Linked DNA regions of Homo sapiens: region 1 is linked to region 2. The links come from fine-mapping of genetic effects on gene expression. A gene starts in region 2. The other region holds a variant in brackets. All regions are shown on one strand. Distances are from middle to middle.

Region 1 (5,370 bases), 110 kb after region 2:
CCAGGCAGAGAGCGACCAGCAGGCTCCTCAGCCCTCTCTTGCCAAAAAGCACAAGATGTTGAGGCGAGCAGGGCAGGCCCCCGGGGAGGGGCCAGAGTTTTCTATGAATCTATTTTTCTTCAGACTGAGGCCTTTTGGTAGTCGGAGCCCCCGCAGTCGTCAGCCTCCCTGACGTCTGCCACCAGCGCCCCCACTCCTCCTCCTTTCTTTGCTGTTTGCAATCACACGTGGTGACCTCACACACCTCTGCCCCTTGGGCCTCCCACTCCCATGGCTCTGGGCGGTCCAGAAGGAGCAGGCCCTGGGCCTCCACCTCTGTGCAGGGCACAGAAGGCTGGGGTGGGGGGAGGAGTGGATTCCTCCCCACCCTGTCCCAGGCAGCGCCACTGTCCGCTGTCTCCCTCCTGATTCTAAAATGTCTCAAGTGCAATGCCCCCTCCCCTCCTTTACCGAGGACAGCCTGCCTCTGCCACAGCAAGGCTGTCGGGGTCAAGCTGGAAAGGCCAGCAGCCTTCCAGTGGCTTCTCCCAACACTCTTGGGGACCAAATATATTTAATGGTTAAGGGACTTGTCCCAAGTCTGACAGCCAGAGCGTTAGAGGGGCCAGCGGCCCTCCCAGGCGATCTTGTGTCTACTCTAGGACTGGGCCCGAGGGTGGTTTACCTGCACCGTTGACTCAGTATAGTTTAAAAATCTGCCACCTGCACAGGTATTTTTGAAAGCAAAATAAGGTTTTCTTTTTTCCCCTTTCTTGTAATAAATGATAAAATTCCGAGTCTTTCTCACTGCCTTTGTTTAGAAGAGAGTAGCTCGTCCTCACTGGTCTACACTGGTTGCCGAATTTACTTGTATTCCTAACTGTTTTGTATATGCTGCATTGAGACTTACGGCAAGAAGGCATTTTTTTTTTTTAAAGGAAACAAACTCTCAAATCATGAAGTGATATAAAAGCTGCATATGCCTACAAAGCTCTGAATTCAGGTCCCAGTTGCTGTCACAAAGGAGTGAGTGAAACTCCCACCCTACCCCCTTTTTTATATAATAAAAGTGCCTTAGCATGTGTTGCAGCTGTCACCACTACAGTAAGCTGGTTTACAGATGTTTTCCACTGAGCATCACAATAAAGAGAACCATGTGCTACGAGCCGTGTCTGTAGCATTTGTCTGCGGCCAGGGGGCCCTGGACAGGACTAGGCCTGGCTTCTGCAGCCAATGCCGGCTCTGCATCGTCGGGAACCAGATTGGCTGAGGCGTAGGCTGAGCTAGCTGTGGGCGGTTGTGCAGAAAAGCTAAGATGGAAAGGTGGGCTAGGCCAGATCCAAGGAGGCTAAGAGCATCTTAGAAACCTTGGTTCAAGGCCGAGCACGGTGGCTCACGCCTGTAATCCCAGCACTTTGGGAGGCTGAGGCAGGGGGATCACCTGAGGTCAGGAGTTCAAGACCAGCCTGGCCAACATCTCTACTAAAAATACAAAAAAAATTAGCCGGGCGTGGTGGTGTGTGCCTGTAATCCCAGCTACTCAGGAGGCTGAGGCAGGAGAATCGCTTGAACCCGGGAGGCAGAGGTTGCAGTGAGCTAAGATTGTGCCACTGCACTCTAGCCTGGGCGAGAGTGAGACTCTGTCTCAAAATAAATAAATAAAAAAATTTAAAAAAGTGGACACTATCTGGGTCAGCTTAAGAAGGTGACCGATTTTTGGCAAAACAGCTGCATGCACATTCCCTGGCCCTTAGCTTCCTATGTGCCACCCTGCCCTGTCACCCTGGGCAAGTCACTCCCTTCCCGGCTAGCTTCCTTGTCTGTTAAGTAAAGTACACTGGATCTTTGCTGCTGGATGGCGGTCCTTGCACCAGAAGCGTTGGCTCCACGTGAGAACTGCTTAGAAACTATTTCAGACCCCGCCCCCAACCCTCTGAATCCAACTCCACTTTAGCAAGACAAGATCTACAAACGATCTTCATGGCATTTTGTCAGAATCTTTTTTTTTTTTTTTTCCCTGAGATGGAGTCTCACTCTGTCACCCAGGCCGGAATGCAGTGGCTCAATCTCAGCTCACTGCAACCTCCGCCTCCCAGGTTCAAGCTATTCTTCTGTCTCAGCCTCCCGAGTAGCTGGGATTACAGGTGCCCGCCACCATGCCTGACTAATTTTTTTGTATTTTTAGTAGAGACAGGGTTTCACCATGTTGGTCAGGCTGATCTGAAACTCCTGACCTCCAAAGTGTTGGGATTACAGGCGTGAGCCACCACACCTGGATTTTTTTTTTTTTTTTTCTGAGACAGAGTCCCTGTCACCCAGGCTGGAGAGCAGTGGAGCGATCTTGACTCACTGCAACCTGTGCCTCCCAGGTTCAAGTGATTCTCGTGCCTCAGCCTTCTGAGTAGCTGAGACTACAGGCGTGCACTACCACACCTGGCTAATTTTTGTATTTTTAGTTGAGATGGGGTTTTGCCATGTTGGCCAGGGTGGTCTCGAACTCCTGACCTCAGGAGATCCACCTGCCTCGGCTTCCCAAAATGCTGGGATTACAGGCATGAGCCACCACACCTGGCCGTTTCACCCCATTTGAACCTTAGTTTTCTCCTCTGGGAAGCCAAATTAATAAATGTTTTTATCACAGGGCCGTCGTTGAAGCATGTATGACTATGTGTGTGAAAATGTTCTGCAAACCAAAAAGGGCTCAGGTGCTATAATTTTTTTTCTGCAAAGGTTGGGCTTTGAAAGGACTTTAATTAAAGATTTTAACTGTAAGATATTCATAACCTAAAATTGCCTTTTTAACCATTTTTAGGTGAACAGTTTCGTGGAATTACATTCACATTGTTGCACAACCACCATCATCCACAGAACTCTTCTCTTGCAAAACTGACACTTTGTACCCAGTAAACATGAACTGCTCATTCTCCCTCCCCCAGCCCTTGACAACCAACACTCTGCTCCTTATCTTTATAAATTTGACCACCGTAAGAACCTCACATGAACGGAAT[C/T]ATACAGCATGTGTCCTTTTGTGACGGGCTTATTTCACTTAGCAGAATGTCCTTAAGGTTCATCCTTGTTACAGCATGGGTCAGAATTTCCTTCCTCTTTTAAGGCGGAATAATATTCCCTGTGGGTACACGTACCATTTTGCTTATCCGTTCATCTGTCAATGGACACCTGGGTTGCCTCCACCATTTGGCTATGGTGAACGATGCTGCTATGAGCATGACTGTACAAATATCTGGTCAGGTCCCTGTTTTCATGCTGTTGGGTATATTCCCAGAAGTGGAATTGAGGGATCCTATGGTAATTCTATGTTTAAGTTTTCAAAGAACCGTCATATAGTTTTCCACAGCAGCTAAGTGCTATTATTTTATTTATTTATTTATTTAGAGACAGAGTCTCGCTCTGTCACCCAGGCTGGAGTGCAGTGGTGCGCTCTCAGCTCACTGCAACCTCTGCCGCCCGGGTTGAAATGATTCTCCTGCCTCAGCCTCCCAAGTAGCTGGGACTACAGGTGCCTGCCACCACACCCGGCTAATTTCTGTATTTTTAGTAGAGACAGGGTTTCACCATGTTGGCCAGGCTGGTCTCGAACTCCTGACCTCAGGTCCTCAGGTGATCCTCCCACCTCGGCCTCCCAAAGAGCTGGGATTACAGGCGTGAGCCACCACGCCCAGCTAAGTTGCTATCATTTTTAAGGTCATGCTTTGGCACCGCAATGACTCCAGACAAGAGTCTCCTTTGTCTCTTGGCTGCTGGAGGGAAGGGGATAGAGGTTGGCGCATGTCCCTTGGTGCATGTTCCAGAGATCCTGTTGCTGTGGGTGCTCACAGCACCCTCCCTACCCTCCACTCCTCATTTCTCCTGTTTGGGATCCACTGAGCTAGATGCTTCTCCCTCTCCCTGGGCTAAAGCTTATTTGCAGCACCCTCAGTACCTACTAGCAGAGAGGCATTCAAGCTGAAATCCTGCATCTATATCAATTACTCGATTACCTATTTCAAATCTGAATCCAAAAACTACTCTGTTAACTCTGTGTATGAGTCCAGTTCTCTTAAATGTTATATGTGCATCAAAATGAAACACACATTTGTCTAGACTTCAGCAGGAAAATATGAGCTTGATTGTGTTTGTCATTTTTATACCTACTTCTGAACCTTCCTGAAGCTGACACCTGTTACTCAGGGCCCAATTTTTCCATATGAGGAAAGACAAAAAGGATTGTCCATGAGACACTGCTAGTGGCCGGGCTGTGAGTGGCCGGGACCAGTGGCTGCTCCCTCAGCCTCCTATGGGGTCCCCAGGGGCTGTGGGCATGAAACACAATTCCCTTCCCCTGCACTTTGCAGTCCTAGGCTTGTTTGTCTCCGCTAGCCACTGATGCCTTCAGAAGCCCCCATTGTCAAATGCCCAGCTTGAAGCTCGCCACCTCCTTCCAGGGTGCCTTGAAAAAGAGCAGAACAGGGCGCTGGGGTCCCTGTCATGGTGCACACAGACAATGACATCGGGCATGACCTGGCCAAGCACACCTCTCCATTGGCGGGGCAGGGCGGGGTGGGGGTGGTGGCTGTGAGGAGGGCTGTCCACACTTCCAGCTTCCACTAGGTGGTGCTGGCGATGTCACCGCACATCTTCCAAAGCAATTTCAGGGTTCATTTCCCCCTTCGAGTTGGGTTTGCCTTCTCAGTGGCCGAAATTGCATATGGACCCAAGATTTTGGCCCAAGCCCCCTCCTCTGGAGCTGCAGACATCCTGGGTGAATTTTCCTGCGGTGTTGATGGTGAAACTGAGCCCTATTCTTAGTCACTAGATCCTCGGAATCTCCAAATGGATGGTCTCTGCTCACGTCCCACGTCCCTGAAGTTAAGAGACACCTGATTCTCACCTGGATTTGAGTCTGCAGTCCCCATTCTGGTTGCTCCACTATGAGATTACGTTCAGGGAGTCTGTCGTCAACCTAAAATAACAACAGAAAGGGAGTCTCTGAAGATAACAAGTTTATTCTGGAATGAGCAGAAGGATTTGTAAATCTGGGAATACATGATGTGCCAGGACACCCCATGGTGGGACCACAGGCCGACTCAGGGAGACAAAGGAAAGCAGAGGTGGTGTTTTTTTTTTTTTTTTTTTTTTTTTTGCCCCAAGACGGAGTCTCGCTTTGTAGCCAGGCTGGAGTGCAGTGGCGCGATCTCGGCTCACTGCAACTTCCGCCTCCCGGGTTCCAGCAATTCTCCTGCCTCAGCCTCCCAAGTAGCTGGAAATACAGGCATGTGCCACCATGCCCGGCTAATTTTGTACTTTTAGTAGAGATGGGGTTTCTCCATGTTGGGCAGGCTGGTCTCGAACTCCTGACCTCAGGTGATCCATCCGCCTTAGCCTCCCAAAGTG
Region 2 (5,370 bases):
TCAAGCAATCCTCCCAGCTAAGCCTCCTGGGTAGCTGGGAATACAGATGTGCGCCACCATGGCAGTCTAGTTTTTGTATTTTTTGTAGAGATGGGATTTTGCGATGTTACCCAGGATGGTCTTGAACTCCTGGGCTCAAGCAATCCTCCCACCTTACCTCCCAAAGTGCTGGGACTACAGGCATGAGCCACTGCGTCTGGCCACTTAGTATATTTTCAATCAGCAAATACAAATCTACATAAAAATTTTAATGACTTTTTTTGTACTTTTCGACATATGACTATATCACAATGTATTCAATCTTGTAATATATTGTACATTTATTTCTAACATTTAGTGACTATAAACAATGTTGCAAAGAACTTTTTTTTTTTTTTTTTTTTTTTTTTTTTTGAGACGGAGTCTCGCTCTGTCGCCCAGGCTGGAGTGCAGTGGCGGGATCTCGGCTCACTGTAAGCTCCGCCTCTCGGGTTCACGCCATTCTCCTGCCTCAGCCTCCCAAGTAGCTGGGACTACAGGCGCCCGCCACTACGCCCGGCTATTTTTTGTAGTTTTAGTAGAGACGGGGTTTCACCGTTTTAGCCGGGATGGTCTCGATCTCCTGACCTCGTGATCCGCCCGCCTCGGCCTCCCAAAGTGCTGGGATTACAGGCGTGAGCCACCGCGCCCGGCTGCAAAGAACTTTAAAGTTCATATCTGTGTACTTTTCTAATGTCTTTTAAGATGAATTCTCAGATAGAATTGATCAATTTACTTTCTCATCTGTATCTATAAACCTGACCAATATTGAGCATTTTTTTTTTAATTAGGTGAAAATGGCATTTTATGTTGTTTTGTTTGCATTTCTTATGGCTTTTTAAAAATAATTATTGGCCATTTATAATTCTTCTTTAAAATCACCTGTTCCTGTTTTTGGCCATTTTTATTTTGGAGTCTTTGAGGTTTTTCTTTTTCTTTTTCTTTGTTTTTTTTTTTTTTGAGGCGGAGTTATGCTCTTGTTGCCCAGGCTAGAGTGCAGTGGTACGATCTCTGCTCACTGCAACCTCCGCCTCCCGGGTTCAAGCGATTCTCCTGCCTCAGCCTCCTGAGTAACTGGGATTACAAGCATGGGCCACCATGCCCGGCTAATTATTTTGTATTTTTAGTAGAGACGGGGTTTCTCCACGTTGGTCAGGCTGCCCTTGAACTCCCAACCTCAGGTGATCCGCCCGCCTCGGCCTCCCAAAATGTTGGGATTACAGGCATGAGCCACGCGCCCGGCCGAGGTTTTTCTTATCAACTGGGAAGAGATCTTTATATATTGCTGATAGTAATTTGTCACAGAGTTGCAAAATCTTTTTTTCCCAGCTTTCTTTTGCCTTTAGAACATAGCTTTTTTCTGAAGTTAATTTGGAAGAATAGTCATGATAGCAAGCACATTCCAGTAAGAAAGAGTAATGATGAGAAATTTGCCCTCATAGATATAGAATGTATTATAAAGGTATCTTCATTAAAGCATGGTGGGATTGGCACAGGTGCACACAGAGAGATCAATGTATACAAGTCAGAAACAGCTTCAAGTATAATAGTTCTATAGGCGATGAAGGTGCCAACTAAAATCAGTGGAGAAAACAGTGTTTGGACAAGTGGCTATTACAAAAATTATCTTAGGTTTCTTCCTTACCCCAAAAATAAATTCCAAATGGATCAAAAGATTTTTCATTTAAAAATGAAAACATTTTTTATCCTCTTGTAGTGGACAGTAACAAAAAAAAAGTGCAATTTGTAACAAGTACCTGAAAGGATGTATGCGAGTTAATGACATGGAGGTGAAGAGAGGCTCGGAAGGGTATTCCAGGTGGAGAGAACGGCCAGAGCGAAGGTTTGGAGGCTGAAAGGCAGCAACGTGCGGATCCTAAAGAGGCAGGGTCAGGAATCGAACTCAAGACGCTCACAATGGAATCCAGGGCTGAGTCCATGCCCGCCCCCACAGGGATCATAATTATGTAAAATAGCATTTTTCCCATATATGGTACTTAATATCTGTCCTTGTGGTGGGATGACATGAGACTGAGAGCACAGCTCGCGGGGCGGGGTGTCAGAGTTCCAGACCTTCCCAGTCGGCTCCCGCAGGGCCTCGCCCCGGCCCAGGCAAGGCACCAAAACCCCGGCCCGGAGCTCTCCGCGCCCCGAGTCGCCGCCTCCTGATTGGATTCCCCCTGTGTCAATCCTTGTCCTAGAACCTGGCTGTCCGTTGGACCCGCCCTAGAGGGCGGGGCTCCCGCCTAGGAAGCGCGGGGGAAGGTGGAGCGGGTGGAGGTGGGGCGGAAAGAGGATGTTGAATCCCCACCCATCTGGCCGCAGAGGCTCCGCCCACCCCCTTTCCACAGGCCAATACGTCTGCCCATCAAGGCCAGGCGCGGCCTGCAGTGGGTGTAGCAGGAAGGGGGCGGGATTGTGCCCCAGGCTCCGCCCCGGAGCCGGCTCCCGGCTGGGAATGGTCCCGCGGCTCCGAGGGCGGGGCGGGAAGGCGGCGAGGAGCCGAGCTGGGTGCGGTGAGGCGCGCAGATCACCGCGGTTCCTGGGCAGGGCACGGAAGGCTAAGCAAGGCTGACCTGCTGCAGCTCCCGCCTCGTGCGCTCGCCCCACCCGGCCGCCGCCCGAGCGCTCGAGAAAGTCCTCTCGGGAGAAGCAGCGCCTGTTCCCGGGGCAGATCCAGGTTCAGGTGAGCGAGCCCCACCGCGGTCCCGCCCCGGGCAGGCGGCGGCGGGCGGGCGGGGGCGAGACGCGCTGCCGCCAGGCCGACTGGTGGTTCTTGGGCTCAGTGCGGCCCGCCACCCGCGCGGGCGGGGGCGAACGCCGGCGGCTCAGGGCCCGGCACCGCATCCTTCCCAGGGGGACCGGGACCCCCACGCGGGCGCTCGGGGAGGGCGCCGGCAGCAGCGAGGCCTAGGGGTGCAGGGGCGGCCTCGGGACCCGGCGCTCCCCGGCGCCCCCCGTGTCCCCCGGCGCGGTCTCAGGACTGGGCACTGGAGCCGACCTCCCCCAGCCGCTGGGGCACGCGCCCCGCCCTCGCCTCGCCCAGGCCCGACTCGGGCAAACTTTTTAACCCCTTCCGGGAGCCGCGGCCCCTGGGACGCAGCCTCACGGGTTGGGAGCCCGGGGCAGCCGCTCCCGTGGAAGTTTCTGGCGTCTGAGGCACGGAGGTAACGGGCAGCGGGCACCGTTTGGCAGCTGTCAGGGCGTCCTCCTGAGTCAGAGTCGGACCGTCCCGCTGCAGACCTTGCACCCGGCCCGGTTTCCGCCTCCGCGGCCGACTTCCTCATTCGCCCGCTGCCGTCGGACTGGTCGGGGAGGGCCCGGGGGAGGTGCGGCGGCTGCCCGGACAAGGGGGACCCGGCGGGGACCCGGGCGCGAGACAGGAAGGGCCACCCCCAGTCCCTGCTCCAGCCCTCGACCTCCGACTTCTGATCCTCGGGGGAGGGAGGCCCGGAATGCAGCAGCCGTCGGGGCCGCCCAGGCGTGCACCTGATTCCACCGCACCCAGGGGCCATCCCGTCTGGGCGGGGTGCGGGGGCAGCTAGCTCTGCCGTTACGAGCAGGCCTGGGCGATTGCATCTTTCCTGTTTGAGCCAAATCGGAGTTTTCTATTCTCCACTCCACGCACCCGCTTCCCTGTGCTGGGGTCCTCACCCCATCCTGTTCTGGGGCCACGCACAGGAGACAGGACTGCGGCACCCTCATTCTCCAGGGAAGCCCCGCTGTTTCAAACTGAGACTCAGCACCCCCAGCACTAGCTTGCCGGCTGTCCTGTGGTGGGGGGCAGGGTGAGCGCACGGCCCCACCCAGCCGGTGTGGAGAGAAGACTCCTTGGGAAGTCCCAGGTCGTAGAGGCAGGCGGCTGTCTCCACCGGGCAGTTGAGAGGCCCAGCCACTTCTCGGTTCACTGCGCCCTTTTCTGGGTTTAACAGGATTTCAAAGTGACTGATGAGTAACCGTGGAAAGGGAAGAGAGCCTTAGCTCCTTCTCCGTGCAGCGCAGCACTGTGGCCATTCTAACTACACTGTCTGGGCCAGTGTTTGGCTCACCTGATGGCTTAGGAGTCCCTTTTTGGTAAGGAGGGAGGCCTTTTGAGACAATCACTCAATTAATAATAGTCAGTTTATATACAAGGCTGCTATGTGTGGGGGAAGGGGACACAGATGTGTAATTGAGCAAATATTTAACTGCCCTCTCTGTGCCAGGGACTCTGCCAGGTGGTGGGGGGGTGGGAGGTTGAGTAAGACCTGGCCCGTGCCCATGGGCACTTAGGGGAGAACTGAGACAAATCTGTAGATGAGTCTAACGTGAGGTAGAGATGACAGGGACCCCGGAAAGGTACTGTGAGTCATGGGGATTGGGAGAAGGGAGCCAGACTGCCCTGTGAAATCCCCGGGGCCCTGCCTCTGCCCTTGGGGAGTTTACAGTCCTCAAGGGGAAAGTGGCAGAACCAGTGAAATACAAAGGCAGCCTGTGATGTGTGTCCCAAGTATGCCATAGACAAAGGACTCAGGAATTTCAAGGCTGAGAGGGGCCACTTCTCTTGGGCAAGGAGGAGGCTGCTACAAGGGAGAAGCACATTGCAGGTTTGGCAAACTGAGGCAAGCATGCGGTGTTGGAAAGTGAGGAGCCACTTAGTGGATAATTGGGGGGTAATTAAAAACATGGAGAGATTGCTCAGTGTAATTTGAGAGCCACTGCGCTCTGGATGACTGTGGGGTGACACCAAAGAACTTCAGTCTCCACACTCAGCAAACCCTGGCAGCGCAGGTGGGCAGAGCCAGGTGTCTGGAGAGCCGGCATTGGCAGGCTCTGGGGAGCTCCCCAGCCCCGGAGAGAAGGGCAGCATTCGGTGAGGCTGTTCATCTGAAAGGTTCAGGAGGGTAGAGGAGAGGGAGGGCCCTGGCTTTCTTGCTTTTATTTTTAAACTTTTTAACCTAAGGGGTTGGAGATGGGACAACTTCTCTCTCGTAGGATGAAGGACGCATGTTAATCACAGCCTGCCTTTTGCCCGCTCTTGCTCCAGAAAAAACAAAACAAGGATCTGTTAGCTCTTTAAAAGAAGAAAAACACACTAAAAAAATGCAGCATTGTTGTGTAGCCTGGTAGGGTATTGCTAGAAACCAGGCTGGCTGTTCTTCCTTTACTTCCTCTTCTAGCTAATTCTTCAATAAAGTACTTAAGACAGCCCTTACCAGCTTGACATCTTTATTTCAAAAGGAGAGGAGGGGTTGGCTGTTGTTTTCCTCTGAGCCTGGCCCTACCCTTCTCTTGGAGGGGGAGAAAGAGAAACCCAAAGCAAAGGAAAAAGAGAGAGAGAGAAAAAAAAAAACCCGTGCCTTGACAGCTTCC

Evidence for each region. PIP is the estimated chance that this variant, and not a neighbour inherited with it, causes the effect. A credible set is the group of variants that fine-mapping cannot tell apart.
Region 1: its variant is the best candidate, but not a certain one, in a credible set for the expression of MYH9 in whole blood (TOPMed, PIP 0.56).

Annotation. Positions count from the first base shown.
Region 1 is chr22:36,277,051-36,282,420 of GRCh38, reverse strand. MYH9 (myosin heavy chain 9) reads left to right here. Exons shown (of 41, transcript NM_002473.6): 41 at 1-1,141. Among named protein-coding and RNA genes, the nearest start is that of MIR6819, 7.2 kb to the left of the region's middle. The variant C/T (reference allele first, on the strand shown) is at 2,988.
Region 2 is chr22:36,385,141-36,390,510 of GRCh38, reverse strand. MYH9 (myosin heavy chain 9) reads left to right here and starts at 2,544. Exons shown (of 41, transcript NM_002473.6): 1 at 2,544-2,704. MYH9-DT (MYH9 divergent transcript) reads right to left here and starts at 1,917. Exons shown (of 3, transcript NR_183573.1): 1 at 1,776-1,917. RefSeq lists enhancers at 2,233-2,527, 4,151-4,200, 3,958-4,671, 4,711-4,900, 4,672-5,370 and silencers at 2,321-2,900, 2,931-3,010, 3,291-3,520.